2 separate regions of the Homo sapiens genome follow, and region 2 is linked to region 1. Evidence: fine-mapped expression QTL. A gene starts in region 1. The other region holds a variant in brackets. All regions are shown on one strand. Distances are from middle to middle. Region 1 holds the start of CCN2 (cellular communication network factor 2). Region 2 holds the start of LINC01013 (long intergenic non-protein coding RNA 1013).

Region 1 (15,684 bases):
AATTTTCTAAATTCACAGACCTCCCTCTTTTATTGTTTTCATGCAGCATTAAAAATATTGCAGTTTACCTTCTGAGATTTTAAACCTCTGTTTCCCTCCTCATTTTAATCCAAATCCTTCAATGTCTCTGTTGTCCCTGACCCACTCAATTTTTATTTTGTTTTATTTTATATTGACAAAGTCCTAATTTATCATGTAAAACATGATGTTTTGAAGTATATTTACATTGTGGCATGACTAAATCTAGCTAATTAACATATGCATTACCTCATAGAGTTAGCGTTTTTGTGCTAAGAACACTTTACAACCATTCTCTTTGCATTTTTCAAGAATAGAATGTATCATTAACTAGAGTCATCACATTGTAAAATAGATCTCTTGAACTTATTCTTATTGCCTAAGTGAAATTTTATATTTTTTGACTAACATCTCCCCAACTTTCCTGCCTAACCCCAATCCCCTAGTAACCATCATTCTACTCTCTACTTCTATGAGGTCAACCTTTTAGATTCCACATATGAGTGAGATAGTGCTATATTTCTCTTTCTGTAACCTGGCTTATTTCACTTAACATAATGTACTCTAGGTTCATCCATGTTGCCACAAATGACAGGATTCCCTTCTTTTTTAATGAATAGTACTCCATTGTGTATATATACCTCATCTTCTTTATCCATCCATCTGTTGATGGACACTTAGGTTGATGCTGTAACTTAGCTATTGTGGATACTGCTGCAATGAACATGGAGGTGCAGATATCTTTTCAACATACTGACTTCTTTTTCATTGAGTGTATACCCAGTAATGGGATTGCTATATCATATAGTAATTGTATTCTTAATTTTTTATGGAACTTTCTGTTTTTCATAATGGCCGTACTAATTTACATTCCTGCCAACAATGCACAGGGTTTTTTTTCCTCCACATCCTTGCTGACAGTTTTGTTATCTTTTGTTTTTTTGATAGTAGCCATTTTAACAGGTGTGAAGTGATAGCTCATTGTGGTTTTGATTTGCATTTCCCTGATGGTTAGTAATGTTGAACATTTTTTCATATACTTGTTGGCCATTTGTGTGTCTTCTTTTGAGAAACATCTGTCTGGTGACCTGCTCAATTTAGATTCCACTTCCAGGAGTATGAGGATCTTCTCCTGGGAGGCAGCCCTGGCTTGTAAGCTTTGTTGGAGTGCTAGGCCAAACCCCTACTAGATTCAACAGCTGCTGTCAGCCTGGCCTTCTATATATCTAGTGACTACCTGCTGGCTGTTTGAGAGCTCTCGTGTTCTCAGAAGCATCAGATACCTTGTTGTTTCTCTGCTTTTCTCACACATGTGCTGACACGGTGCAGATCTTACGGTGGTTGATGATTTGGCACCCCCTACCTCCGATATTTGGGGGGTGAAAGTGTGCATTGCCATCTAATTTTTGTAGAAACATTGCCTGTGGGATTTTTGTTTTGCAATCTAGTGACTCTTTTTTTTTTCTTTAATGTGGGTATTTGGAAAATGTGAAATCTATGCTTTTCCTGCTGCTTCTATATTTCCAGAATGCTCTAATTCAGTAGTCAGTCTCGTTTATCATGCATGGCCCTTCATCTTTGCAGTTAGGAATTAATTGACAGAAAGGAAGTGTGAACTAACAGTGTACTCTGTGTGTGTGCCTATGTGTATGTGTACATGCGCATTTATTTGGGGAGGTGGGGTGCTGCTCCTGGCAGCACTGCTATATACAGATGTGGGTGTATCCTTAAAGCCCAGAGTTTTGACCATAAATTTTCACATTCTGAACACGGGAAGTTTTCCCTTTGGTTTGTGGTGTGGACAGTTGTTTGTAGAGCTAGTCTTTATTTTCAGGTGTATTTTTGTCTGTCCAAATGACATTGGCACTACAACGTTGCTAATTACCTTGGGAAAAGTTAGTCTGTCTGCAATTTTTTTTTCCCCTAGAATCCTCAGCTATCCTCATGTGGAGAAGATTCTAGTTGCCTTTGGTGTATTGCTTTTGTTTACCATTCACTTTGGTTCACTCTTTAGTAAAAACCTACCTGGGTAGGTACAATATTGTTTCCACATGAGGCTTCTTGAACAATTCCATTTTCTCATGTATAAACCACTTGGTAAGGTAGGATGCATTAATCTGGAAGTCTGATAAAGCTAAAGACTTGGGCAAATGGAGGAATTACTTTCAAAACAAATTTCTATTAATGTTAATGAATGGAAGATTTGCTCATCCTCCCTTTTCTATTTATGCCATCTGTTTGTCATTGGTTATCATGGCAACCAAAAACGGAATTATACAAAACAAGACTTATGAAATAGCTCCATTTAAATGAGGATTTCATTTCATAATTTTCAGATTTAACAGTAAGGTAATGAAGTTCAGAAACAGACCTAGAGCATAAAATTTTTAAAAAATGTAAACATTTTCCACGTGCAAGGCACATAGACTAGTTTGTGATGTGAAGGGTTGGAAACTAACCTATAACGGCCAGAGAGGTACAAATGCCAAAAGGACCAAGTGTAATACAACAGGGTTAATGGAGACTGAAGTAATCTAGAGAGAATTGAATTTAAAGTGTCTATAAAGTTCTGTGAAGATAACAAAAAAAATGGCTGTATAGTCAATGTGGTGTGTATGCCTGCAAGTCTGTGATACTTGATTCAGTGTGAAGTATGTTTACATAAAAATTCTATGGAATAATCAATTTATTAATGTATAGAATAATTAAAGATATTTAGAAAATTATTGGTGAATTATCTTATGATTAATAAGAACTTCCTATTTATGCTCAAGAAAACTCAGAAATGTTTAGAAGGATAAATGAATAACCAAGCCCTTTATAGAAAAAATATACACTTTATTTTCAACTAGAAAGGTGCAAACATGTAACTTTTGGTCACACTCTCAACAAATAAACTGTCCGAAAAACAGTCATATCAAAGTAGAAACAAATGCTTCCAGGTGAAAAAACTGATCAGCTATATAGAGTCACTCAGTTTTTAATAAAGGCCATTTGTTCATTAAAAGTGAGGCTACCACATTTCCTACCTAGAAATCAGCCTGCCAAGGACACTGATGCCTCCCCTTTGCAAACAATCTGTTTTGACGGACTGTCATTCTATCTGAGCAGAATTTCCATATAAGTATCCATTTCATGCTTTGAACGATCAGACAAGCTTTACATTCTACCTATGGTGTTCAGAAATTGAGGCTAACATTGAAATATCAAAGCATTAAAAACAAAAATAAAAAGGCACAAACAACTTTAAATTAACTTAGATAACTGTACATATATATATATATACACACACACACACACACACAATATTTACAATATAAATTTTAAAAAATCTGGCTTGTTACAGGCAAATTCACTTGCCACAAGCTGTCCAGTCTAATCGACAGGATTCCGATTCCTGAACAGTGTCATTCGAATCAGAATGTCAGAGCTGAGTCTGCTGTTCTGACTTAAGGAACAACTTGACTCAGTCTCTTGATGGCTGGAGAATGCACATCCTAGCTGTCACTGGGGCTACAGGCAGGTCAGTGAGCACGCTAAAATTTTCCTTCTCAATTACACTTCAAATAGCAGGCATATTACTCGTATAAGATGCTATCTGATGATACTAACCTTTCTGCTGGTACCCTCCCACTGCTCCTAAAGCCACACCTTAATATACATTCTGGTGCTGTGTACTAATGTAGTTCCACTGTCAAGTCTTAACATTCTTCAAACCAGTGTCTGGGGTTGATAGACTATTTGTTTGACATGGCACAATGTTTTGAATTGGGTGGGAATCTTTTCCCCCAGTTAGAAAAACAGATTTAAATAACTTGTGCTACTGAAATCATTTTTACGGAAAAATGAGATGTGAATCAGTTCAAGTTCCAGTCTAATGAGTTAATGTCTCTCACTCTCTGGCTTCATGCCATGTCTCCGTACATCTTCCTGTAGTACAGCGATTCAAAGATGTCATTGTCTCCGGGACAGTTGTAATGGCAGGCACAGGTCTTGATGAACATCATGTTCTTCTTCATGACCTCGCCGTCAGGGCACTTGAACTCCACCGGCAGGGTGGTGGTTCTGTGGGGGGTGCAGCATCGGCCGTCGGTACATACTCCACAGAATTTAGCTCGGTATGTCTTCATGCTGGTGCAGCCAGAAAGCTCAAACTTGATAGGCTTGGAGATTTTGGGAGTACGGATGCACTTTTTGCCCTTCTAAGGAAGACAAGGGAAAAGAGAGAGGAAAAAAAAAAATCAGCGACTCTACAAGAGGAGTGGCTTTCTTCAACCCTCTGTGTTTTAGTCTTCTGTTGTCTGACTTCTGTTTATATTTTGAGGGGAGGAAGTTTGAGTCTCATTTGCTATGTCCAAAAATAGCCAGAGCCTCTCTTGGAATGTCTTGAATTAACTAACCCTGTGGAAGATTTCGTAGTGGAAAACTGGTGGTTGCTATTACACAAGCTCTCATTCCAGCAAAACAGCTCAATGGTTAGATAGTTTTGGAGATAACGGGCTTATACTAACAAGCGTGGCAAGAGCCCTAAGTTGGGTCCTATCCACTGTTTTTCCTGTGAAAAATAGTTAATAGGAGCAGAACATGTACCTTAATGTTCTCTTCCAGGTCAGCTTCGCAAGGCCTGACCATGCACAGGCGGCTCTGCTTCTCTAGCCTGCAGGAGGCGTTGTCATTGGTAACCCGGGTGGAGATGCCCATCCCACAGGTCTTGGAACAGGCGCTCCACTCTGTGGTCTGGACCAGGCAGTTGGCTCTAATCATAGTTGGGTCTGGGCCAAACGTGTCTTCCAGTCGGTAAGCTGCGAGAGCAGAGCACACAAACACCATGTAAAACGCCTGGATAAGGTATTTCCCCCGTTCGGTCGGCACAGTTAGGACTCCCTCCCTGGGAGAGAATCACGACCCTGACTTAGAGGAAGACTCGACTCACCCGCGAGGGCAGGCCCAACCACGGTTTGGTCCTTGGGCTCGTCACACACCCACTCCTCGCAGCATTTCCCGGGCAGCTTGACCCTCCTCGGGAAGGGGCAGTCAGGGCTGGGCAGACGAACGTCCATGCTGCACAGGGGCATGCAGCCCACCGCCCCGTCCAGGCACGTGCACTGGTACTTGCAGCTGCTCTGGAAGGACTCTCCGCTGCGGTACACCGTACCACCGAAGATGCAGGGAGCACCATCTTTGGCTGGAGAAGAGGAAGGGAAGAGAGGGGTGGGGGATGCAGAGGTCAGGCATTGGGGCACTCTCACATCCAGAGCGTCAGGGATGCGAGTTGGGATCTGGGCTGCAGGGGGCGGGCTGGCAGCAGCTGGAGAAAGAAACTCAGTCCGAGCGGTTTCTTTTTCCAGCGGGCGGGTGGGCGTGAGGGAGGAGGCGGCCGGACACCTAGCGGTGGGGGCTGCGGGTCTTACCGGTGCACACGCCGATCTTGCGGTTGGCCGGGGAGCCGAAGTGACAGAATAGGCCCTTGTGCGGGTCGCATGGGTCGCGCTCGGTGCACAGCTCGCCCAGCTGCTTGGCGCAGACGCGGCAGCAGCCGCAGCCGTCCAGCACGAGGCTCACGCCCGCCGGGCAGCGCGGCGCCGGCTCGTCCGGGCACCGGCACGGCCCGCTGCAGTTCTGGCCGACGGCCGGCTGCAGGGAGGACAGGGCGGTCAGCGGCGCTCGGTCGGCGCGCACGCCCTCCCCGGCCGGCCCCGAGTCCCTCCCTGGCAGCCGCCGGCCGCAGCGGGGGCTCCCGGCGCTTACCCGGCTGCAGAGGGCGAGGAGGACCACGAAGGCGACGCGGACGGGGCCCATACTGGCGGCGGTCATGGTTGGCACTGCGGGCGGAGCGGAGGGCGCGGTGGCGGCGAGCGGGGAGCGGCGGGGCCTGGAGCGCTGGCGGTGGTCGGAGGTGGGGACCGGGACGCGCCGGGCTGTCGTCTCGGGGCTGTCGGCCGGGGCGGCTGCCGTCGAGCTGGAGGGTGGAGTCGCACTGGCTGTCTCCTCTCAGCGGGGAAGAGTTGTTGTGTGAGTTTGGGGCGGGCGGCCCGAGGCTTTTATACGCTCCGGGCGGCCGCGGCTCGCCAATGAGCTGAATGGAGTCCTACACAAACAGGGACATTCCTCGCATTCCTCCCCACCTTCCTGCCTCATCAACTCACACCGGATTGATCCTGACCCCTTGACACTCAGCATTCCTCCGTCTGAAAAAGCTGGCACACTCCAGCTCACAGAAAAAAAAAAAAAGGAAAAAAAAAAGCGCAGTATTTCCAGCACCAAATAGAATTTTTTTTTCCCTATCCTCTTCGCACCACTCCTGATTCATATCATTTATAAACACACTGGCAATTATTTCTTATTTCTTTTTCGAATAAGTTTGCCCTGTTCTGTCCACTGACATACATCCTTTTTAGGAAGTAGGTAGCTGAAGAGGCAAACAGCAGGAATTCCTAAAAAATTCGAAAAGGTTTCTCCCCCCCAACCCTTAGCAATGATTTGCGTTTTAGAGGCTATAGGCTCTTGAAACTCTCCAAAGAGTAGAAAAGGAGTGAGTTGCTTTTAACCATTTGAAATCCTCAAGATGCCTACCTGTAAAACCCTGAATTCTATATTTGAGATTTGATCATTTGTCACTTGAGGTAACGGTTTTGGGACAAGAAAGAGAACAAAGACGCGTGTGACTCAGGATGCAGTCTCCTGGGGCAGATTTCCAAAACTCTTGCTTAGTTTTCTCTTAATATATGTAGGAGTTTTATATAGGCAAGGACAAGGGAGGAGTGGCCATCAATGTTTCCAGAAAAAGGGATCCATTGTTCTATCAGAGCAAATGATTCTGTGTTGGGTAGGTAGGGGCTCTGGGTGTCAGGGTGGGAACACTGGGATGCAAAGGGGGTTCACCTAGGAGCATTTAAACACAGCTTCACTAGGGTCTTTGAGAAATGAGTGCATTTTCTTATATTAAAACCTATAATCTTCAAATGTGGATTGGATTTGGTTTGTCTTGTTAAAATAAGAAGTCTGATTCCATTACAAGAGCAGTGTACCCTGTTGTATCTGGATATAAACTAAGATTGACAGTGAATAATATATTTTTAGTGACTCCCCACACATCTATGAATAGTGATTGTGACTTCTCATTACCCAAGGAACATGCAGCCTGAGGGAGTGAGGTCAGGACAAGGAAAGAATAGGCTTTATTCTCCCTGGGTGTGTGCAGATGTTGAATATGGCCAATAAACCTAAGCATATCTCCATTTCTTAATATAGTGCTACTTAGCTTCACTAAAGACCCAACTAATTCACTGTGCTTTCATTTGGAATCTATGTTGTTTAGTGGCTTTTTTGTTAATACCTCCAGTTCCCATTTTATATAAAGAGAGTGATTCTAGGGCCATACCATTTTTGTATTCTGTAATGCCGCATCATTTGACATTGGTGTTACCAATGAGTAGATTCCTTTAAGTTGTTGATGCTTCAGAGCATGGGTTCAAGATAAGCATATCTGTTTGTGGTGCAAAGATCGGCTTTAGAAACAATGCATTATAGATTTATCATTTGAAAACAGCCTGTTTAAACTGATCAAATTTTTAAAGTTTCAGTACAGTCTGTTGAAAAATAGCCAAGAAGAAATATAACCACTCCAACTTCAGCATAGAGCATATCATCTGTGCACGATTACCTCGTTAAGCCAGCCACATGTTATAGAGTGTAGTTGCATGTCAATAGTGTGAATGGCCAGCAAAGGGGTGGGGGTGCCCTCTGAAGCTCAGGAAGAATTTTCGTCATTGTTATTTAATGTCCTTTCCAAGCATTCCTCAAAAAGAAGAGGCCTAAGAGTTCCTATTTAAAGAAGGAACATTCCAAGTTAACTTAATAGCCACATGTGTATTAAAGGCAACTTGGCCCTCAACTTTTTCTTCCCTTGTGGATGATTTTAAAAGTCCAAAATATGTGGGAAGCCACAGTGAAACCTTTCAAGACCTAAACCCCCAATTACATCTACCTCTAATGGTTGGAAAGGTGTGGTGGCTGGGGAAGGGTAGGGATGTGCAGTGCGAGTCTCACCTAAGGTGGGATGTGGGCTTGGTGGTGAGCTCTCCTAGCTTGCAGAGTGAGGTAGGTGGGAGAAGGGTTGGGGAATTTCTGAATCCTCAGGAGAGTCTGAAAGCTACCACCATCTTCATGCCTGCAGCAGGGAGACTCATTCATGGAGGGGATAAATTGTTGTACTGGGTTATAGTTAGATGGCCTAGGTTGTATTCTTGGAACTGCCTTTCGCAGATCTCAGGGAAGTCACACGTAGGAGCCATATTCCCATTTCTGTTTAAAAAATGAAAGTAATCATAATTTTTTTAATTTAATAGGGTTCAGTGAGGGCTGAGTAGATGAAAATTCCAGGGAATTGGTGCTTTATTTTTTTCAGATTTTCTTGATTTTTTTTCAATCTCTGTGTATAATAAGTATATTACCATTCTGCTCTGTTGTTAAAAATGTCAAAAGAAAGAATTTGGTTTTACTATAAAATTCTCATAGTCCCTCGAAGTCTCAAAAAAATCTATAGTCAGTTCCAAATAGATGATTTTAATGTTGCTTAAGAGGAAATAAGCATATTGAAATATATAGAACATATGAAATCTCAGGAAAGAAAAAGTTTCTGTGCATTATCAGGTTAGATTGAGGCTTTATGATCAAAACTCTTTTTGAAGGAGTTAAAAGACTATTATTAAGAGAGTGACACAGAGACAGACAGACACATACATGCACACACACCCAGAGAGAGAGAGAATGAGAGAAGACACCCAAGACATTCACAGACTCAGAAGTATGTTTTTATTGTGATATGGACCATCAAATGCCAGGAAACTCAAAGGGAAAGGCTGATACTCCATCCATAATTCATGCCATGGGATCTGAATTCTTGCACTATTATCAATGACTCAGCAAATGTTTGTGTGTGCCTGGGCGGTAAAGTGGGAAATAGTGGCTTCTTATAACTTCATCCAACTTTGACTTACCCCAGCCCCTTTGATTGACAGCAGGTCAGAGTTGGGAGAAAAAGATCTTTGAATTTGTGTGCAAAATGGTTAAGATGCACTAATTTTGACTTGTAAGCAAGTATTTATCTAGCAAATGCTTTTTAGAGAGCATTTTTTCCTCGTGGTAAAATGAGGAATTAACTAAGCTGGCCACTGAGTCCTGTTTACCAAGCTATATAAGGTATGTGTGTGTGTCTACTAGGGCATCATTTGTACTGGTCGTTTGGTTAAGTCTTGTAAGATGTTCAGCTGTGGATGTATTACATTCCTTCCCTTAAGTTTTTTGTTGTTTTTTCCTCCCTAAAAAAAAAAGGTTTCTTGATCAGGTATCAGACACAGAGAAAACCTGGCAGGACTACAGAAAAGTGGCCAGAGTTGGAGTGTTTGTGTACTTAAAGAAGGAATCTTGCACATTTTCAACTTTTAGTTGTAGACATTTTCTTATAAGAGCAAGTAGGAGTCAGTGCCAGCCCTCAAAGCGGAAATCAAAGCTCCCAGGGAAACATGCCGGAGGAATGTGACTCAGAGCCAAGACCCATACGCAATGCATACACGGAGCTGTCAGACTTATAGGAGGAAGTCTGGCCGTATATGGGCATCTGGACAGTGAGCGATTTGTCCTTATGGTGGGTCAGGGGGAGGTTTCTGATGTTTCTAGCGTGCCTCAAATTCAATCATGTAAATTAATTCTACAAAAAAAAATGGTATCCCAGAAGCCTTTTGTAAAATAGTAATAAATATTATTCTGAAATCTTCAGGGACCCTGGTTTGGCTGACATGACCTCCTGTTTGCTTAAGATGAAGGTTAAGGAGAGGGCGTACTTGCTGGGAGTTCATGGCGGGGAAGATAAACGCGGATGTTTACTATCTAAATTACATTCATTACCTTCATGCCTTTTCCTCCTTATAATTAGTTCTCTGACTTTCTTAGGATATTTTCTAATGCAAAGGTATTTGTCAGAAGGCAGTCAAGGCCGTTGCATGTGGTTTGTGTTTTATGTTTGCCTGTTCCTCGCTTGTCCATAGAGTTGGAGGCCAGAGGGGTGAGAAAGGAAGTTTTGTTTTGTAAGATGATATCCCTTCAACTTACTGTTTGTTTCACTTATTTTGTTAATTTGACTCTTTTTTTTTTTAAAGTAGTTTACTTAGAATCCTGTGTTGCCTCTAGTCAGCTTTTGTTCATCTAAGATAGTGTCAGATGAGGATGCTGCTAGGTAGGAATGAGCCTGGTGGTCTCTTACACTGTCCTCGACAGGTTAGAATCTCAAATTCATCACCGTTTAGCAACCAGGAGTATTTACAGCCCCTTGCTTCATCAGGGCTAAATGTGAAGCATCCCCTTGGTGATACTTAAGGTGATATTTAAGTGAGTGGGAATGAAAAACAGAGGAAATAAGCATTTCTTAAGATGTGTGATTTGGGGACACCCAATCAATAGGTTTAGGAGGAAGAGAGAATTGGGACTAGCTATCTTATCTCAAATAATAGAAGTAAGTGAAAGGATAAATATTTTGAAAGGACTAGTGTGAAATATACATGAATGTATTCCTAGGGATTCTGCTGCGGGGTGGGAAAGGGGTGCAGATTAAGCCAGACCCCATCATTCATCCCTGGAAATGTGCTCCCACCTCTAGCCAAGAGGCCTGAGGTCCCTTCTCACAACTTCAAACTCCCTGGAATACCATTAGGTGGAGCCTAGGGGACTGGCTAGGAGGTGAAGGTGTGAGCTCCATACCTGCCATTTGCTTGCCAGTGACCTCAGGGAAGACACCTACTCTCTCTGAGCCTGAAATTTCCCACCTGTTCACAGTTAATGTGCAGCTCAAGGAGACAATATTTATGAAAGCACTTTCATAAAGGTATTAGAGTTTTAAAATTGCCCTTCTCTTCCATTCTTCAGTGGCTCTCAAAACTAAGCCCAACTCAGATTGACTGTAAAAGCCTGTCACAGTTTGATTTTATAACAGTGTCCAGCTCTGCATGGGTTTTAGAGTGTTAAAACTAGGTGAGAGCTCAGAGAAAATCAAATCCTACCTCTTATTTATTTATTTATTTTATTAGATTAGATATTCAGGATTGATAGAGACATTTAACAAATGAAAACTTTTTTTCTTTTTGAAATAGGGTCTGGCTCTGTCTCCCAGGGTGGAATGTAGTGCCATGATCTTGGCTCACTGCAACCTCTGCCTCCTGGGCTCAAGTGATCTTCCTGCCTCAGCCTCCCAAGTAGCTGGGATAGCTGGGACTACAGGTGTGCACCACCATATCCAGCTAATTAAAAGAATTTTTTTTTTTTTTTTTGTAGAGATGGGGTTTTGCCATGTTGCCCAGGCTGGTCTCGAACTCCTGAGCTCAAGAGATCAGCCCATCTCAGCCTCCCAAAGTGCTGGGATTACAGGCGTAAGCCCCTGCGCCGGGCCACAGATGAAACTTTTAAATTTGTCTTATGCTTCTTATATACCTTATATTGTCACTTCGATGATAATGTGGGCATGCATTTTAATCATAGTTTTCAGGATACCTAAAACAAAATTCTATGCTCAGCTTATTTTTGTCACCTGATAGCATCTACTCCCTTCATCTTCATTATATGTTCATAGTTTTCATTGATTTGTGGAGGATGGGGAGAGTTAGGGAGTTCCTAACAGTCTTCCTTTCTTCAGTGAAAAATGTGTAACTTATCACTAATAAGAATATGGTATGCAAATGATAAAGAAACAACCAAAAAATTATGATTGCTTGTGTCCATCACATTTTCTTTAGATTTGTATTTCTTGGAAACCAAGGTGGTATTTTACTTAATGTGATGCTACAGACTTTAACACTTTACATATATTTGGGTTGACAGTTTTCTTTCATTTCATTTTGTAATGTGAACTGTGCTACCATGATGGTGACAAGTTTTCAAATTAAAAGCAAACTTGGTAGCCAGTATGTTCTAGAATGCTAAAAACCAAGTTGTTTGAATCATCCAAAGAGTTTCTAAACTATTTTCCTGTGTGTAAATCTTTAAATAACCATGCCTATGGGAATCATATATTAAAATCTGAGCACCTGGATAAGGCTTTTTGAGAAGGTATCTTATCTTCTAAGTCAGAACTTTCACCACATATGAAGAAAAACCACATTCTATTTAAAATCCTGACATCATCAGATTTGAAGTAAAAGTCAACTAATGCATTGTTTAATTTGATGTTAGAATGCACGATGCCAATTTTATCTGAACAATTTAGCGGGAACGCTTCTTAGAACTCTATCTGGGTGCCTAAAATAGATACTCAAAATTTTGACTGCATTCTCTTTTGTTTATGTAGAAATTTTTAATTTACAAAGCCCTTTCACGGTTACCATCTTACTTCATTATCATAACAATCGCATTAGGTATTATTCTACCCATATTGCAGGTGAGGAAATTGAGGTCCAATAATGCTAACATACACAAGCCTGGTTAGAGGTGGAGAAGGGACAAGTGAATTTAAATTCAGTTCTTCTAAAGAGAACACCCCTTGCCTTTCCTTCCAAACTTCACGGCTTCTTTTCTTTCCATTCTATATATGGTGATCTCTAAACACTGTGTGTCCTTAAGATAGTTATCTCAGATCTTAAACTCTTAAAGGACACACCCTAGAAGGCATATAAACACCTGTGGGCTAACTGGCAGTCACTATTGTATTGTGCCGTGGTCTGAGATAAACATGAAGTAGAAAGAAAATGTTTACTGACCTGTATTAGTAGAGAAATTTGGGCTTAGATTTGCTTTTTTTTTTTTTTTTTAACAATTAAGATTTTGGTGATGTTGCTATGTAGACAGATATGTTCTTCTTATCCGCTAACTAACTGATGCAGCTAAAAAAGGAAAAAATGAATAAGATGATGGGTATGCTTTGGGAGGCTTAATATCAGGGTGTGCTCTGCTCTGATGTCAGCCTCAGCCCACACTGAAAGCGTTCAGTCTAACCCTATGCAGTCTTGTTTCGGCTGAGACTGGGACCAACCATAGACATCATGAAGGTCTTCTTGAATAATTGTATCATTCACTGATAAGCTACCCTTAGGGATAAATATCATGACAGAGTCTGGGACAAACCATCAGCACTGAAGCAATGTCTACTATCAACATAGGTTTTTCACGAGTATCCCCTAATAAACATGTCCTGCCATGTTATTGATATTTATTTTATGAACTTGCCTTAACTGAAAATGCACTTTCCTCAAACTGAATATGCTTTGCCTTTCAGGTTTACAGCTTTCTCCCTCTCTCCTTTAACCATGGAAGGATTTGATTGGAATCATAACTAGTTTCATGTTGTTAATGGAATGCGATTTGTCATAACTACACATGGCAGAGAGAGAGGGTTGTCTAGGAATGGTGGGGTTATGATGAGGGAATTTTCTTATTGACCTGCACATGTGTGTGAAAGTTAACAACTACAGGATTACATTTCATATAACCATTGACTTGCTCATGTCTGGAAATAATATCACTATTAAGCTATTTCTCATATACAGATGATAAAAACTTATTTTGTCCAATTGAATCTTTTGTGGCATTTTCATCATTTCTAACGTCTCTATGTTGGTTCTTCTTGATTGTGGTTTTCCCTGCTGTTTCCGTATTTGACTGATTGCTGAGGCTCCTACTATTTGCTTTCAGCTCAGAAGGTAAGCAAGCAAACTTCCAGTCCAGTTTCAGATGGACTTTGAACCAATGTTGCTTTGCAGTAGGGCTGAGCACTGCCACAGTCAAATGTATCCTCCCTGGTTGGCTTTGATCGCTTTCGAGGCAGGCCCATCCCTCATGGGTCAAGCTGGTTTTTCCTTGTCAGCTTCTGAAGCCTCCCCGAGAGGGGGGACCCACAGTGTGGTGTTACCACTTTTCTCTCATGTGTTCTCATTTTACACACTGAAGCCTGGCCTTCATCTAAAGTGAACTCGAGAAGTCCAAACTCCTGTATTTCTCATGCATCATATCCAACTTTCCAAGAAGGGAAAATGACCTTATGTTGAGCAGAAACGGCCATCTGGAAGCCATTTTGTCTACCGTAAGCGCCAAGGACGAGGAGAATTCTTAGACCCTGCATGTGAGGGCAGGAGGCCACAAGGCAGAAGCCACTCACCAAATGTATTTATGTCATAGCTACATCACCTGGCATCCTTTACTAAAGTGTTGCAGGGGGTCATTTTACTTGGACTTCCTTATTTTTCCTGGCATTGCTGGTGGTAGGGAAATACTCCTGTTGTACTGTTTCTGGCAGCCCAATATTCCACCAAGCTAGGCCTAGAAAAGCAAAGGTGCAGTGAGGTGGGGAAGACACTAGTACATCATTTAAAAAAAAAAAACTTTGGTGTTTATGCTTTGTTTTCAAGATCGTAAGAATAAAACCTGCCAAAATAAACTTGGCTCATATTTAATTGATTAAACAAGATTTTTAACAATTGTAGCTTGACATTCTAGTGTGAAATTTTGTCACTTAAAGTAAGCTAATTTTATAGTTTAAAGCATTTCATAAAATTAGCCACCATTTTGGATTGAGTGAGTCCTAATTTTTATCTTGATTTAGAATGTTTTAGAAATAGATATATCATCAAATTGATCTGAATATAAAATTTGCTGTACTTTGTATTTCTCTTTTTCACCATTTCAGGAGAGATTTTTTTTCTCTATTTCTCTATTTAATAATATGATTAAATGTTAATATGGCTTAATGCATGACATTAAGCAAACTACTTAATCTCTCTAAGTCTCTGCTTCTGTTAACCTGGAGATAATAATGGTACCCACTTCATAAGATTTCATAGAATTGTTGGGACATTTTGCAAGGGTTAAATACCAAAAAATCCTAAAACATCTAGAACAATGCTTGTCAGAGACTAAACACTCAATAAATGTTCATTAAAGTAAAATAAAACTGTCCTTTTAGTTCATCTCTGAATATTTTTAGATACTAAATTTCTGCCTTAGCACATTTACTACGTATTAGCACTTAGCTCAGTAGTTTTCACGGTCATGTATTATGCAGATTACACTTAAAAAAAAAGAATGTCATGACAGTTTGTATTGACAGCCTTTTTCTAGCAAGAAACATACCGTTATTTTGAACTTGTGAATGATTTATGAATTGTGATTCTGTCTTCAGGATCCTGTTTTTTTCTGTTTTGTTTTTGTTTTTGTCATCAAATTGCCACAGGGGGGAGTATAAGTTCTTGAAAGCAGCAAGAAATACAGTTTAAGTAATTTGGTACCAATTATCATTATTATTAGAAACGTCCATATCTGAAACATCTAAACAGATTAGATTAATACCTATGTGAAAGTAGAAATATTTATAGTAAAAAATTGGGCACCGTTTAATATAGGATTTATTAATTTTGTGATAGTTGCAAAAGCTGTGTCTGGAAAATGTCCCCATGGGTGAATGTGTGGGCGTGCACATGCATGTGGGTAATATTAATGCTGTAGGAGAAGGGAGAAAATGTAAGTTTCTAGTTTTTGCCATTAAAGTCATGACGTGAAAGAGAGAGGGAGAGAGAGAAAGAAAGTGAGAAAGTGCTAGTCTGTGTAAAATGACCATGAAAGGGCTTGGATACAATGATGTCATACAGCCTCACAATATGGATAATACTGAACCCTTTCTGTACATATGGG
Region 2 (15,684 bases), 180 kb after region 1:
TCAGTTAGTATATTTTGCCCATAACTTGGATATGGCTATCAAAACTAATTAATTTGCTTGACCATTTGGCTACCCAAGTTTCTATCTCAGCTCTCTTCCGCATTATCCACCCCAAACTATCTCAGCTCTTTTCCCCATTATCTTTCCAAAACTGTGCCAGGTTTGACAAACTTATTAACCAAAAAGAAAATACTTAATTTTAAAAAATAACTGCATGTCTAGATTGGCCTCACTGGTCTTGGCTGGAGCGTTGGAGAAATTTTATCTTCTCCTTTCTCCACAGAGTTACTTTCATTTAAAAAAACTAAGCTCTTCTCCAGACCATTTCCTCCAGTAACTCCATTTTGACTTTTGGAAGTCAAGCAGGTTGAGCTCTCATTCTCCTCTAATCCTCTCACACACTGTTCCAGCCAATAAATCTTGATTTCAGTTTGGGTTCTCCTCATTCACCATGGGAATGCAATTGGGTGAAAAAAAACCATTTCTGATGCCTTTTTACTTGGATTTTTTTTTTCTCTAAAGTGGGTCCTCATCCCAATTCAGTTCTCTCTCTTTCTCTCTTCTTTAGACAGGTTTCCATGTGCAAGGCTCCAGCCCAGACCAATGACACTGCTTATCTATGATTGTCAAAATGCCAGCTATCACCAGTGAAGAACTCCAGGTGGCACAAATACTATGACCTGTCTCCTAACAGATCTCAGGAGGTATTCCATAGACATCGGATATCTGTGTCTTATGTCTCCAGTTTAATTGTAAATCCCCAAAGGACAGAACTGAGCCTGCTTCTTTGGTTTTCAAACAAAATGTCACATCCAGTGACATTTTGAAAATAAAACTTTGGCTCATAAATTTTAGAGCCAAGCATAGGATGCTGACAAGGGCCCTACCCAGCCAATGGACAGCAGCTTGGTGACTTCTGATCTCATTTTTACTTAGAAAAATTTCTCTAAAATCAATTTAGAGAGTTATGATCAGCACTAAAAAATAAATAAAATATAAGCAAAGGGAAAATATCCCAGTGAATTACCCTTCATAAGGATGAGGATTGCTTTGGGAAATGTTTTAGTATATGTGCACTGTGTCATAACCAGCATTTTGAAAACCATTGTGCAGCAGTGTAAGGACTCCATAGATGCTTGGTTTGGGGTCATTTAAATTGTCAAAGGAAGAGTGGAGGTAAAGATTTGTAAAGGAGCCTCTCTGTAAAATCATGAGGGTCCTTTTGTGGCTCCTGATCTTTGATCCATCAGTCTCAGAATGAGGTGTAAGCAAGCCATTAGGTTGCTGCATGAGTCTGGTTGGGCACCTCCTTCCCTCATTTTGAACAGTGAGATTAAGCCACAAACTCTCTGAGGAGGTTCAAATGCTGATGTAAGTCTCAGAGTGAACACAACCTATAAACACTACTATAAGTTTCAATCATGTAAATGGGAAGTTAATTATGATTGTCATAAACTGCTAGGTTCAACAACCTTCAATTTATTTTTTTAAATGTTAATGGAGTGCTTCCCCTGTGCCAGGATTGTGTAGCCTGAAAATACAGAGTTGAATGAGGTACAGGTTACAACTTAGAAGAGCTTATGATCTAATACAGGAGTTGGCAAACTACAGCCTGTGGGCCAAATCTGGCCTACAATCTGTTTGCATAAATAAAGTTTTATTGGAATTCAGCCAGGCCCATTGGTGTATGGATTGTCTATGGTTGATTTTGCACAGTCACGCACAGTTGCAACAGAGACCATATGGTCCACAAAGCCTAAATATTTACTGCTTGAACCCTTACAAAAAAAGTTTGCCAATCTTATCTAATGTTGTTTAAAATACATTTTTTTCTGTGAGATTTTCATATGCAAAAGTGACAACTATATCAAGAGCAATGGAATATTTTCCTTACTTTCATGACTGAACAACATAGATCACTAGTCTGATGGAGCAGCTTTAAGAAGATTCAAGAAGTGGCTCCAAAGAAAAACACTGTGATATTAATGAAATATTTCATGTTTTTCTGCCTTACACATACATAATTACCCTGACTGGAGTATGGAGGTCTGACTGCAAAGTTCCAATATTATCACACAAAAAAATTATAGGGCTAGCTAAATCAGCTGAATATTAGATCAGAGATCACCAAGGAGCTACTCATTGGCTGAGTGTGGCCCGTTGCCATCATACACTTGTCCTCAAATCTTGACTCTAAAATTTTTGAGACAAAATATTTGAAATTAACTCAATTTCACGTTAAAATAGAGTTTCCCATTTCTCTTGAAAAATCACAATTGAACAGCAGTAGGCCTCCATTTCTGCTTGAAGGTGACCCACTGGAGAAGCAGTTTCCACATTAGGACCAATGGGGTGTCCATGCTCCAGATTACTCCTATTTCTACCATTCCCCAAAGTGTTCTTGACTCAACATTAAGCATTGCTGGCCATTTAAAACATGCATAGGTTGTTATTTTCCTCAGTAAAGAACTTTCTCAGTAAGCGTTCTCTTTTAAAAGTAGGATAAATAAAGATGAAACAAGAAGATTATGTTTAAAAAATGAATTTTCTGGCCAGGTGCGGTGGCTCATGCCTGTAATCTCAGCTCTTTGGGAAGCCAAGGCGGGTGGATCACGAGGTCAGGAGTTCGAGACCAGCCTGGCCAAGATGGTGAAACCCCGTCTCTACTAAAAAGACAAAAATTAACCGGGCGTAGTGGTGGACACCTGTAATCCCAGATACTCAGGAGGCTGAGGCAGAGAATTTCTTGAACCCAGGAGGCAGAGGTTGCAGTGAGCTGAGATCACACCACTGCACTCCAGCCTGGGTGACAGAGTGAGACTATGTTTCAAAAAAAAAAAAAGAATTTTCTTACATTCAGCAGGCCCTTGGTATCAGCAGGGTGGGGATAAGGGTGAGGTTTGAGGAAGGGATTGGTTCTAAGACACAGATTGTTCAAGTTCCTTGTATAAATGTAGTATTTGCATGTAAGGTACACGCATCCTCCCTATATTTTAAATCGCCTCTAGATTACTTATAATACCTAATACAATGTAAATGGCATGTAAATGGCTATCTTATTTTTTTAATTGTATTATTTTTTATTGTTGTATTATTGTTTTCAAAAATATTTTCAATGCAAGGTTAATTGAATCTGCTAGTGTGGAACTGCGGATATGGAGAACTGACTGTATTTAATATGCAAGCAAAGAGTATGCAATCTGCAGCTATTTTGCTCACTTATGTTCTTTCCTAGACCATGTAGATACGATAGTTTGAGATTAGTGTCTTAGACCCATAAAGAAAAGCATCTGGACAAATATTTGGATTTATTTTAGTGGTTGAAACACACGATTGAAGAAGCTTGGAGACCACAGTCTTGGTAACCCAGAGGGGATCTGGGAGCTCATCACATCCAAACCTTCATTTTAGCAATAAAGCATCTGAAGCTTCCCCCACATCCTAGGAGAAATGATCTGGTCAAAAGCACAGTGTGTCAGCAGCCAAGGCCAACTCTCTAATTCCCACTCCAGGGGTGTTGAGAAAATGAGACCAATAGAGTGATAAAGAATTCCCCTGAAATAGCTGGGCAACTTGTAGGAACCTGTCAAACTTCTTCCTCCAGCGTAGCACAAATTTTAATTGGTGGTACCTAGAACAGTTTCCATTTTTGTGAAAAATGGCATCTGATCAATTTCCTCACTTCCAGTAGAGGCCGCCTGCTGTGGCTGCATTTCTACTGGCCAGTTCTCATTGGCCAGCATCTGCCTTCTTTTCCTGTGGAAATAGAACTTACGGGCAGGAGAAAGGACATATTTGGTAATGTTACGCTCCTCAGCTTCCTGCTCCGGCTGTCTCAGCTGCAAAATGTCAAGGGAAAAAATATCCCTCCAACTTGGAAGGAATTCCAGACAGACCCTGATGCCTGCAAATTTGTCAGAGGGAGCCAAGTCCAGAAAAGCAGAACATGAAGAAGGTTCATTATTTGACTTCAAGAGACATTCAAATAATCAGACACTCTGGTATTTATGATTTTCCCCATTTCAGATGGTCTGTAGTTCACAACATTCCCCTCCCTTTACCGCTGATTCTGAGCTTCCTTTTACGTTAAACCTCAACAGTTATAAAAAGACTCTCACATTACTTGTAAGCCACAGGCACTACTAGGAGACACTGTGTTCACACAGGGCTGTTTAGGGCTGGGGAAGGGCAGCTCTTTTTGATTATTAGTCTGGGGAGGCCAGGCCAGGAAGTCAGGCTCACTTCACCCTGACCACGCCACCGGAGTCCTCATGTAGCTCCCAAGTCTGTGCCAACGCTTCCTGCCACTCACAGCACCAAATGCGATGATCTTTACTAAAAAGCACTTATTTCCGTTGGCTTTCTTATTCATTTAGGCTTTTCTTTTCCTGGGGGGCAGTGGCGGGTGGAATAGCCAGTTTATCCTGACTTCCACATTGTGAATATTCCACCAGGACTGTTTATAAAGTTGAGTTTGGGGGGATCTTCATCTTTCTCCTGGCATTCAATGCATTTTCTGTCTCCTTTAGAACTGTTGCCACATGCTGGCAAAAAGATAAGGAAACTGAATTTGTAATCCAAACCTCGTTAAATTGCTGCACACACATTTTCCCTTCTACTTCTTGCTGTCTGTTTCTAAATGCCATGCTATCTGTTTGTACTCAGTCACCTGAAATCCTTATTTGGGTTCTCCAACAGGCACGAAGGCATCCAAATATCAATTTTAGTAATGGGTGGAAATGCCCACATGAGGAGTGGGATGTTCAGTCTTAACATGTGGTCTCTATGAATAAGGGTCTTCATTTTTTCTTTTCCTAAACGGTCCAGCTCCTCTACGCTGGTTTTGCTCCTCAACAGTCCAAGGTTTGTGCTACTTCCATGGTGATCATCTGTTAGGTCATAAACATTAGATTGTGGCATCACTGAATGAGTCAGTTGGGAGGAAGCTGGGCTGGAAATACAGCTGAGAGCCTCTGTTGACAGATGGATGCCTTCTTAATCACAGCCTGTGTGGGTAAAGGGAAAGCCTTGCCTGGCCAACCCCTCCCACTCCCACCCCCACCTCCTGCATTGATTCACAAACCTGGACTGCTCTGGAGGAGGCTGGGAAAGTCCATCCCCAGGGAATACCACTTTTTTCCTCTTCTGTGCCTCTCACAGGACACCCACATGACTAGGAGGAGGCAGAAAGTGAATAGGGAGCTCTTATTACTTTTTGAGTGTCAGCAAGGTAAACCTGCTTTCATTTGCTTTTCCAAATCCTAAACGTTTCCCTCTTAAACTGTTGATATTGTTAGCATTGTTCGTTTCTCAGTGTGTGTCCATCTGCCTTGTCTGTAAAATGGGCATAATAAGAGCTCACCTTTCAGAAAGCAGTGGGTAGGGCTAGATGGTATAATTATGTTCCCTTTCATCAGTTTTCCCTATCTCTACTAAGCACCAGGTGCTATTGGAAAAATTACCTTTTTATCAGATTTTTAAAATACAGTTGCCTGAGCACATATTTAATTTTAGAAGAAATAGTTTAATAGTTCTAAATGTGGGGTTTCAGAGAGCCCTATGTCAAGAGCCGCTGTACACTAGGTTGCTAGGAGACTGGACAGCCAAAGAAACAATGCCCTTTCCTGTGACCACTATCAAGAACTGCTCAGGATTCCTGCCAGCCTGTTAGCCTTTATCGTTCAGTCATTTTAGACCTCAAAAAGAACATTCCATCAAGGGATCAGGTTCTATCATCTCACTGGAATGCAATGTAAGACCCCAGAAACTCTAGTACAAACAAATTTACTATGGCTCAGATTAATAATAGATAGCACTTGAATGTGTGCCCCAGTTGTGCTCCCTCTCTGCTAAGGATAGGACAAATGAAAATAAATTGCAAATTCAGCAGGGAGATTCAGACCAAACATAAGGAAGAACTTCTGCCATTAAGGACATAGAAGTTGTGAAGTTTGCCCCTTGGGAAGAGTTGTTTAGATTAGCCTGAAAGAGCGTATTTGAAGGATGAAGATGCAGCCCTCACTGGCAATGGAGGACAAGGTGATATGATTTCCTAGGTTTTCTTCAAGACCCAAGATTCTCCTAGTTGTGGAAAAGTGACTCTGTGCATTACTCACCACTATTAAGATTGTTATTCATGATCAGGCCTGAGTGAAAGCCCGGCTACTCTTACATAACAAAGGCAGATTCTCAGTGTTGGAAGATAACTGAGGAGCCATTCATTTCATCCCTCTTCTTTCACCAGTGAAAAATCGGAGACACAAAGCATTCATTGCCACATGGCCAGCAGAAGAGCTGGGCCTAGGACCAGGACCCCTCAGGCTCTCTGTGCTGTGTGCTGTACTACACCATATTTTCACTAATAATATAGGTCTATTTAAAACATAGCTTCATCTCTGGACCACTGCAGATTTTACATTCTAAAAATGCTTTTATAAGAATTCTGTTTATGACATGAGCAGCACTGAAGCAGAAATCTGAGGAACTCTGGGGATTGGTGTGGCTAAAGA[T/C]CACAATTTACAAGAATAGTTTAGGCAAAGCACAAAAGAGGAAATGTTATTTATATGAGCTCATTTCTACTCACCAAAACATTTAAAAATTAAACTCAAGACCCAACAACTTTTTCCTTTTCTTAGCCCAACATGAGAGGCTTACACATGTACCCCTTTTCCCCAAACTTGTGAACTTGTCTGATATGTAGTCTCAAGTTTATAAGCTTCCCTTAGAAAAAGTTCTATTTCATTTCTACAAATCATACTTCTCTCATTTTATAATCCTTGAAATGGATAGTGCTGCCTCATCTTAGATGAGGCATTCAACAGTTTTAATTTCTAAGTTATAAATTATTATTTCTTCTTCTTTTTTAAACGTCTTAGAGACAAATCTGTCTATTTCACATAGGAAGCCAGTTGAGTTGTTCCTCACGCTTTCCCCACGAAGCTGCATCTGAAGGACTTCCTCACCCCCCCGCTGTGATCACAAGTTATGCCTCACAGATTCATTTCCTTATGAATGACTTCAGGAAGCCAGCATTTTTAATAAATAGGAAGTAAATTATATTTAATGACTAAATTCTCACCTAAAGTTGATACTAATATTACAATAACTCTCTTGTGCCCTATTTTGGTGTTTTAAACTTCTTTGCTGTACATTTAAGAAAATCAGAATTTCAGTAGACTCCTCGTGCAGTCTGAGGAGGCAGTTTCCTATCTGGTTTGACTTAAGGGGCTGCAGAAGACATTCTTATCCCACATATTTCTTCTGCTGATCAGTCAGCAACTGAAATTCCAACTAATGGATTCCATTCTTCCAGTTAAGACATCATCTCCAGAAAACTGTGCTAGTTGGCATCCAGCAGTGCCCAAGTATTATTTAACCCACTAGAACCTGTGACTGCATCAGCTTTATATCCTGGACCTCAGCCTGGAACAAAGGAGAGCTACACTTGGATACTAAACACAAGTGGTCTGGATAGATTATGCTGGGAAAAGAAGCCTGGAGCAGGCAGTACAGTGGGAGAACAAGGTAAGAATCAGGTAAAAGTTGCTATCACTGAATCACAGCTTTCTCTTTACTTGTTTTGGGGGACTGTATTTATATTACTTGTCTCTCAAGCATCCTTAATATATTTATTTACTTTCTCAAAAGTCTTTACTGTCATTAATCTATTTGGATTTTCAAACTGAGTCAGAAGCATACATTATGATATCATTAACTTGAGGATATGCTGGAACCAAAATGTCCTTCTAGAATAAATGTGTATTGGAGTAAGTAAAAAACTTAAGGGGAAAAACAGGAGAGCTACTACTCAACTTTTATGGTGGTTTACATGTGTTAGGTGAGGCAAAAAAGAGGTAGAACATAAAAGAAAAGGAAATTTAGGTCATTTTTTAGGCTAAGAAAAATCAAGTTGGGGGAATTCAAGGACTGGAAACACCAGTACAAAGCTAAAGATACACTTTAATTCCAGAGATGGTGTCTTAGAAAATATAGTAGTCATTATAGAGACAGGCTGTTGAGTGATGACAATGCTAGGGCCATAGGAATGTTCCTGAAGAAATCAACATCCTTTATCTTACTATCGTTGGAGAGGTAGACTCTGATTGTATGGCACTTTTTTTTGATACTACTAGAAAATTATGCAAGACATCTCACAGAACAGAATCAGACTTGCAGCCCATGATAAAACAGAAGACTGTCTGTAACATCAAAGAAATACAGAAGATTTTATGGCTTGCTGTTTGTTTACCTATAAGGGAAATGCCCGAATGCCTAAAGTATATATTACATGTAGTTTGGCTGCACTTGAGGAAAAACTTGGATTTCTAACTTTTATCAAACAAAGAACGCATTGTCCCTGGTCCATATTGATTGGTGAAACACAGAAATTTTCCATTTATTATTCACTTTATTATTGCATTTATTTATTTTTGCCTACCATTTCTTTTTAAATTTCATTACACCTGTTTTCATGCATGCAGTGAAATCACTCCTTATACTTGGGGGAAAATGACAAGAAACGACAGCCACGGAATCTTCCTCTGGATATGAGAACAAAAATAGCTGTCAGAATAAATAGTGGCCACACCCATGTCACTTCTTCATGAGGTGACTTGGTGACTTCACAAGATAGGCCCCACCCCACCCATATGAAATGAGCACCATCTGGGCTGACCTCCTCTTTCGGGGTCTGTAATTACTGTACAAAGATGCAGGTGCGTCTATGAAAGCGAACTTTGTCGAGATCTCAGTGACACACTCTGCTTTTCCAAATTGCCTCAATTGGCAGTGAATATTAGAAAGAGTCATGGAATGTCTCTGGAAAGATACATAGGAGAACTAGTGACATTGGATCCTTGTGGGTAGGGAGACACTGTGTAAGTGCATCAAAGAGGCTGACTTTTCACTGTGCACACTCCTTCAGACCACTGGAAATTCGGAATTGTATACGGTGTGCATGTATTACCTCCTTAAAACTAGCTAGCTACCTATCTACCTACCTACCTACCCACCCACCTACCTTCCTACCTGGCTAATTCATTAGCTAAGTAAATTAATAAGGTGTTAAAAAAAAAGAAAAGCCAAATAACTGGAAACACTGAGATCTTCCTCTGTTGCTATTTAGCTAACTGTTCAATTTAACTCTTAAATAAGTTATTTCCTCCGAGTTTTTTTTTCTTTTCTTCCACAGAAACTCTGCACCTAAGCAACACTGGTTTCCTTGTTCTTCCCCAAACATGCCAGGCACATCCCAGCCTCAGCTTCTTTGCAAAAACAATTTCCAATGCCTGGAAAAATCTTGTTTTTGTTATCTCCATGGCTCGCATTTTGCTTAGTTTAAGTCTTGACTCAAATATCACTTTCTCAATAAGGCCTACCTTGACTGTCCTATTTAAAATTGCAAACTTAACACCCCAGAATTCCTCATATCCATTTTATCTTTCATAGTAATGATCTTCTTCTTTTTTTTTTTTTTTTTGAGATGGAGTTTTGCTCTTGTCGCCCAGTCTGGAGTGCAATGGCATGATCTTGGTTCACCGCAATCTCTGCCCCCAGGTTCAAGGGATTCTCCTGCCTCAGCCACCTGAGTAGTTGGGATTACAGGCATGTGCCACCATGCCTGGGTAATTTTGTATTTTTAGGTGAGATGGGGTTTCTCCATGTTGGTCAGGCTGGTCTCAAACTCCTGACCTCAGGTGATCCACCCGCCTCGGCCTCCCAAAGTGCTGGGATTACAGGCAAGCCACTGCACCCAGCCATAATGATCTTCTTTTTAAAGTACTATATAAGCATCTTAGTACTTAACATCTTTATTGTCTATATCAAACTCTAAAACCAAGCTCCATGAAGGCAAGGATTTGTCTTCAAATCTTTTGCTCTCTGTTACTTCCCCCAGCATCTAAGTACTGCTTAGCACTTACAGCTTTTCAAGAAATAATTGCTGAGTAAATAAAAGAACTAATGAGTTTTGCTTTCTAAATTTTTTATTCTTGATTGAATATTATTAAATGATTTGAGACTGACACATCTAGTTTTTAATTTGATGATTATTGTTAAGTTTTACAAAAACAGACTTCAATGTATATTTTGAAAATGAATTCAAGAATAGCATTTTCTACAAATGGCCAAGAGACATATGAAAAGATGTTCAACATCACTAGTCATCAGAGAAATGCAAATGAAAACCACAATGAATCTCACACCCATTAGAATGGCTGTTATCCAAAAAGCAAAAGATAAAAAGTGTTGGCGAGGATCTGGAGAGAAGAGAACTCTTGTACACTGTTAGGGGGCATGTAAATGGGTGCAGCTGCTTCGGCCGCTATGCAAAACAGCATGGAGGCTCCTCAATAAATTAAAAATAGAACTATCATATGATTCAGCAATCCCACTTCTGTTATTGATCCAAAAGAATTGAAAGCAAGATCTCTAAAAGGTAATTGAACTCTCACGTTCACTGTGGCATTATTCACAATAGCCAAGACATGTAATCAATCTAAATGTCCATCGACTGATGAATGGATAAAGAAATGTGATATATATATACAATGGAATATTATTTAACCTTAGAAAAGAAGTAATACTGCCTTTGGTGACAACATGGATGAACCTGGAAGACATCATGCTAGTGAAACAAGCCAGGCACAGAAAGACAAATATTGTATGATTTAAGTTATATGTGGAATCTAAAATAGTCAAACTCATAGTAATAGAGAATAGAATGATGGTTACCGGGAGTTGGAGGGGGTGGTGAGAGAAATGGGAAGTTATTGCTCCAAGTGCACAAAGTTTCTGTTATATACAATGAACAAGCCCTGGAGATCTACTGTATAGTGTAGTGTCTATAGTTACAAGTACTGTATTATATACTTAAAAATTTGGTAAGAGGATAGATCTTATGTTAAGTGTTCTTATCACAAATAATAAAGAGGGTGAGAGAAAACTTTCGGAGACAATGGATAAGTTTATTGCATAGATTGTGGTGATGATTTCACAGATGTGTACTTATCTCCAAACTAAAGTTGTATACATTCAATATGTGCTGTTATTTTTTGTCAGTTATACCTTTAAAAAGTGGGGTTTTTAAGTGACCTTCTCTAGTTGTGAAGTACACCTTCTTCCACTTGACAACTTGTCTGCCAAGCCCATATCCTAATCTTTGTTAACAGATCCTTTACATCTAGATTATTGTTATTAAGATATCATTTTCTGTTGATCAATTTTTTACTTTGGAGGATATCTTTAAGATAATCATTCTCTTTTGAGCAAATGTATCATCATTGTTTGAATGTATCCCTGTTTACAAGCTTTCAACACTCATCACCTGAAACAGGTTTCATTTCATCAACTAGAGTAGTCAACTAGAGACTTCAAACAGGAGGAGACTTAAACATAGGGAATTAGGCACCAAAAAAGTCCATTTGAGGAGTGAGGGCCAGACAAAGCCACTGTAACCTTTGAGGAATTCAGGAAGTTGCAAGAATCATAAGAAACTACCCTATGACTCTTGATCTCAGCCACAGCTGTGGCACTGGGGCAGGTTTTCAGCAAATTTCCCAGAAGCTGCTGTAAAATCCCGTATCTGTTGTCTGTTCCATTCCCCACATTGCCCACTACTGCTAAAAAGGAAATGACAGCTTCTGCTTCTCCCCTTTCTGTAGAATTCATCTTTCCCAACGTGCTCTAAATTATAAACGAGCAAAGGATTTCCATTTTCAAACCCCACAGGTTCCTCCATGTACAGATTTCCATAAGCCTCAAACCTGAAAGAAATAGAAAGCAAATTGAATTCCTCCTCAAAAGTCTACCAGTTTGTTTTGGTGGTCACTGCTACTAAGTTCTACTGATGTGCACATTCTGTAGGTAAACCCCAGAGATGAGCACATCATGTTCATGTCTCTCTTCCTTGATGACCATGGCATGCTCATCCAGATTGTCTATTTCTACTCCCAACACAGTAAATATCATGGGAGGCAATCCTTAAGTTACAGAACATAATTCACATAATATTCCTGTACCATAGGTTAAGAAAATGAGCACATATTGTTCTTTTAATTTAATAATTGTCCCGTATTGGCCAGTCATGGTGGCTCATGCCTGTAATCTCAGCACTTTGGGAGCCCAAGGTGGGCAGATCACTTGAGCCCAGGAGTTCAAGACCAGCCTGGGCAACATGGCAAAACCCTGTCTACCCAAAAATCACACACGAAAAATTGCCAGGCATGGTGGTGCACGCCTGTGGTCCCAGCTACTCAGGAGGATGAAGTGGGAGGATTGCTTGGGCCTGGGAAGTCAAGACTGTAGTGAGCCATGATTGCACCACTGCACTCCAGTCTGGGTGACAGAGAGATCCTGTCTCAAAATAATAATAATAATAATAATAATAATAATAATAATCCATTATATTTCTTATAAGTCCCCTCTCTACCTCAGTTGCCTTGTCTATAAGAGGAGGATACAGTAATACTTATTTCATAAGATTATTGTGAGAATTACATGGAACTTCATCTGCCTATCTATCTACCTAGCTATGTATGTATGTATGTATGATGTATGTATGTATGTATGTATGTATCTATCTATCTATCTATCTATCTAGAGTTTGGAAGAGTGCCTGGACCATTGCAAATGCATAGTACAAGATAGCTACTATTATTACTATTGCCGTTGTCATCATAATCATCCCTCTTTTCTGTAAAAAGTAATGGGTTTATATGTCAGATAAATATGTTGAACTTAATTCTCTTTATGTGTCCCTGAACCTATCTAAGCCTTTTCCATGGTCTCTTCATGTGAAAAGTGTGGTTCTTCCCTGCTTAAATATGAACTTGGCCATGTGACATGTTTTGATCAATAGCATATGAGCAGAAGTGACAATATGCCAGTTCTAAGCCTAGGCCTTAAAAGCTCTGTAAGTGTATTTCCACTTGCACCTTTGCATTTGTGTCACTGACATGAGAAGATTCCTTTTAGGTCGCTCCTGCCCCTTCAGCCTGAGCCCCAGAATGAATACACATAGGCTAGAGATGCATTGGTCAATTCACAGAATCACAGTGAGAAAAAAAAGCCACCAGCCAAGTCCAACCTAGATCATCTGAACCCCATCCTTCCCACATAGGTGTAAGCAATAAGTAATTGCTGTTTAAAGCCCCCTGTGCTTTGGGGTGGTTTGTTATGCAGCAGTGGTGAACTAATACACTTAATTTCAGATGCATCTACCAGTGACTGAGTCAAATGATGACACCTGCTCTTCAGCCAAGTCATATTGCATGTTTTGCCCAAATGCTGGCCATGACTCTTTGTGAACATTGCACAGAGTAGTGCTGCAAGAACTTGAGTGGGTTTGGGGAGAGGCAAGGATCGGTGCCAGTTTCTGCCTTCTGTGTTTTTGCCGCCTTCAACAGTCTGCCAGCTGGTGCAGCTGCACCTTTTGGACAAATGATATGCTATCCTGGGCATTAGCCTAAATGGTACCACACATGCAAAGAGCCACAGCTGCTATTTGTTGTGCTTCTTGCTATTCTTGGCTCTGTTGCATTGCCTAAGGGTGGCATAGATTTCTACACATGAAGCGTGGCTTTCCAAGATTCACAGATAGAACTTTGATCAATACAGCTACTAATGATGATGACTGTGCATGGGAAAATAGGGTAGAATCATTTCTAAATAGCCTAAGATTGTTTTGGAGTAAGAAGAATGTAAATTAATTAATCCTATAAACATGCATGCTATAGCATTGTATGGTTTGTCCTTCCAGGAAAAAGCTAAAACCTCACCTATATTGTTAATATATATATATTTTTTACATTATTTAAATGAGTGAATTTTTGCTTCCTTTGTTGGTTTTGCATAAAGATATTCATATTAGCATAATGTAGATAAATCTCATGAGTTAATTATTCACTAAATCAAATTTAAAATTAGTTTCCATTTCTAAGTCAAAGGTTGAGTTGTTCCACATGTGTTGTGTGGAATAATTGAAAATCATTATTAATTAGTACATGCTGCTGGTGACTGAGATCCCTCTCAAAAATTTCTGAGCTTGGTTTGAAACCTAAAAATAAGAAAATAAGAATAAACATAAGTTCAATCTACAATCCATAGAAACGACATTGTATTTCTAGTCCTTTTAAAACTTAACCAAAAGTCTTTATTGATTCACCACATTTGCCAGTACAATGCAGATGGGAAAATGAATAAAGGAAGAAAAAAATTTTATATATGGCCCAGCTACAGGGCCATACTTTAAGAGAATGGAACATAACCCTGCTTCAGAGCACTTTTAATGAAAATACAGACAAATAAATATATAGTGTAGTTGTTCTCGACCCTGGTTGCAAATTAAGTACATGGAGAGCTTTCCAAAATTATAGATGCTGAGCTCTACCCAAGATTTCTAATTTAGTTGGTCCTGTGTGGGACCAAGGAATTGGTACTTTATGGAAGCTCCCAAGGGATTCCAATGTGTGGAGTTAGATACAGTAGTATTAAGATATTTTGAAGTCATCATAATTCCAAGAGGATGCTAACATGGTTACAATGACTACTTTCAGATTTCTTCAGAGGGGGTTCATAGAGGAATTGACTTAAAAGTAGAGCCTTAAAGGAAAGAAGCTACATCATGGAATGACGTGGAAAAGTATTTTTCTTTTTAAATCAGTTACATAATTTGGGTTTTCTCAAGTTTTGCCATTTTAATCAGCAGAACTTAGATTAATTAATTTGTGAGATGCTTATCTTTGCCTATTAATTTCCTCTATTGATATTTTTACTTGCTATCAATTGCGATTGCTTTTTCATATCTGTCTTCTTTTGTAAAGTGATGACTTTAGTCAGAAGTGTGCTGGAGCAGTTTGCAGAGCCTTGCAAAATTGATGGTGCCTATCTATTTCCAGCTCTATGTTCATCAATGCCAGATCGGCAGACTGAAATCAGCCGTGATAAAAATGTTTACACTATGGAAATTGGCAAATACTAAAAATCATCAGATACTCTCTCACCCCAGACATGATCAATCATTCAATAGTACACAACTGATTTCAGTGGAAGAGAGTTATGGTACATAAATGATTTTTAGTTCTTCATGTTAGATGTCTTAAAATTATAAGTCTCAACTTTCAAGTACCTATTAATCTCAAAAAAATTAAACCTATATTTTACAAGAAAGCCTCTTCTGTATTTTTTATTATATTTCCTTTTGAATCCCCCGCCCCATTTCACTCTTACCACCTAAAACAGAAACTCCCACATCTTCTATGCTCAGAGGAGATTTACTTGTGTTAGCTTAAGAATCATTTCATGTTTTCTCATGCCTGCCTTCATACCACCCCATACCACAGTTTTCAGGTTTTAATTTAAGCTCCACAGCAGCCCTTTTCTGTTCGATGAGAAAAGATAACCAAGAAAATAAATTAGGAGTCTTATGATTGACCCTAGTTTTTTTGTTATTCAAGGAAACCCAAAATGAAGCAAAATAACAAAAAATTGCCAAGGAAAACATTTTCAGCCATTTCAATTACTGTTTTAATTGGCTGGGTCTGGCTTCCAGATTATCCTGTAATCTCTACAAGAATGTTATTTGGAAAAAGCTGAAATATGCCCTGCATGGAAGCCACATCCATCCCTTCAGCACATTCTAGTTGGAATAACCTTCTCTCAGAATACTGGAATCATATTGGAGTAAAA

Evidence for each region.
Region 2: its variant is fine-mapped to the expression of CCN2 in whole blood (TOPMed, PIP above 0.99).

The regions. Positions count from the first base shown.
Region 1 is chr6:131,945,341-131,961,024 of GRCh38, forward strand. It overlaps CCN2 (cellular communication network factor 2), which reads right to left and starts at 6,032. Exons shown (of 5, transcript NM_001901.4): 1 at 5,767-6,032; 2 at 5,430-5,652; 3 at 4,952-5,203; 4 at 4,609-4,820; 5 at 2,836-4,220. The coding sequence starts at 5,832. The coding sequence ends at 3,924. All of the region lies in intron 2 of CCN2-AS1 (CCN2 antisense RNA 1), which reads left to right.
Region 2 is chr6:132,126,960-132,142,643 of GRCh38, forward strand. LINC01013 (long intergenic non-protein coding RNA 1013) reads left to right here and starts at 5,613. Exons shown (of 6, transcript NR_187602.1): 1 at 5,613-5,752; 2 at 7,313-7,524. RefSeq lists enhancers at 4,978-6,177, 5,946-6,447. The variant T/C (reference allele first, on the strand shown) is at 6,510.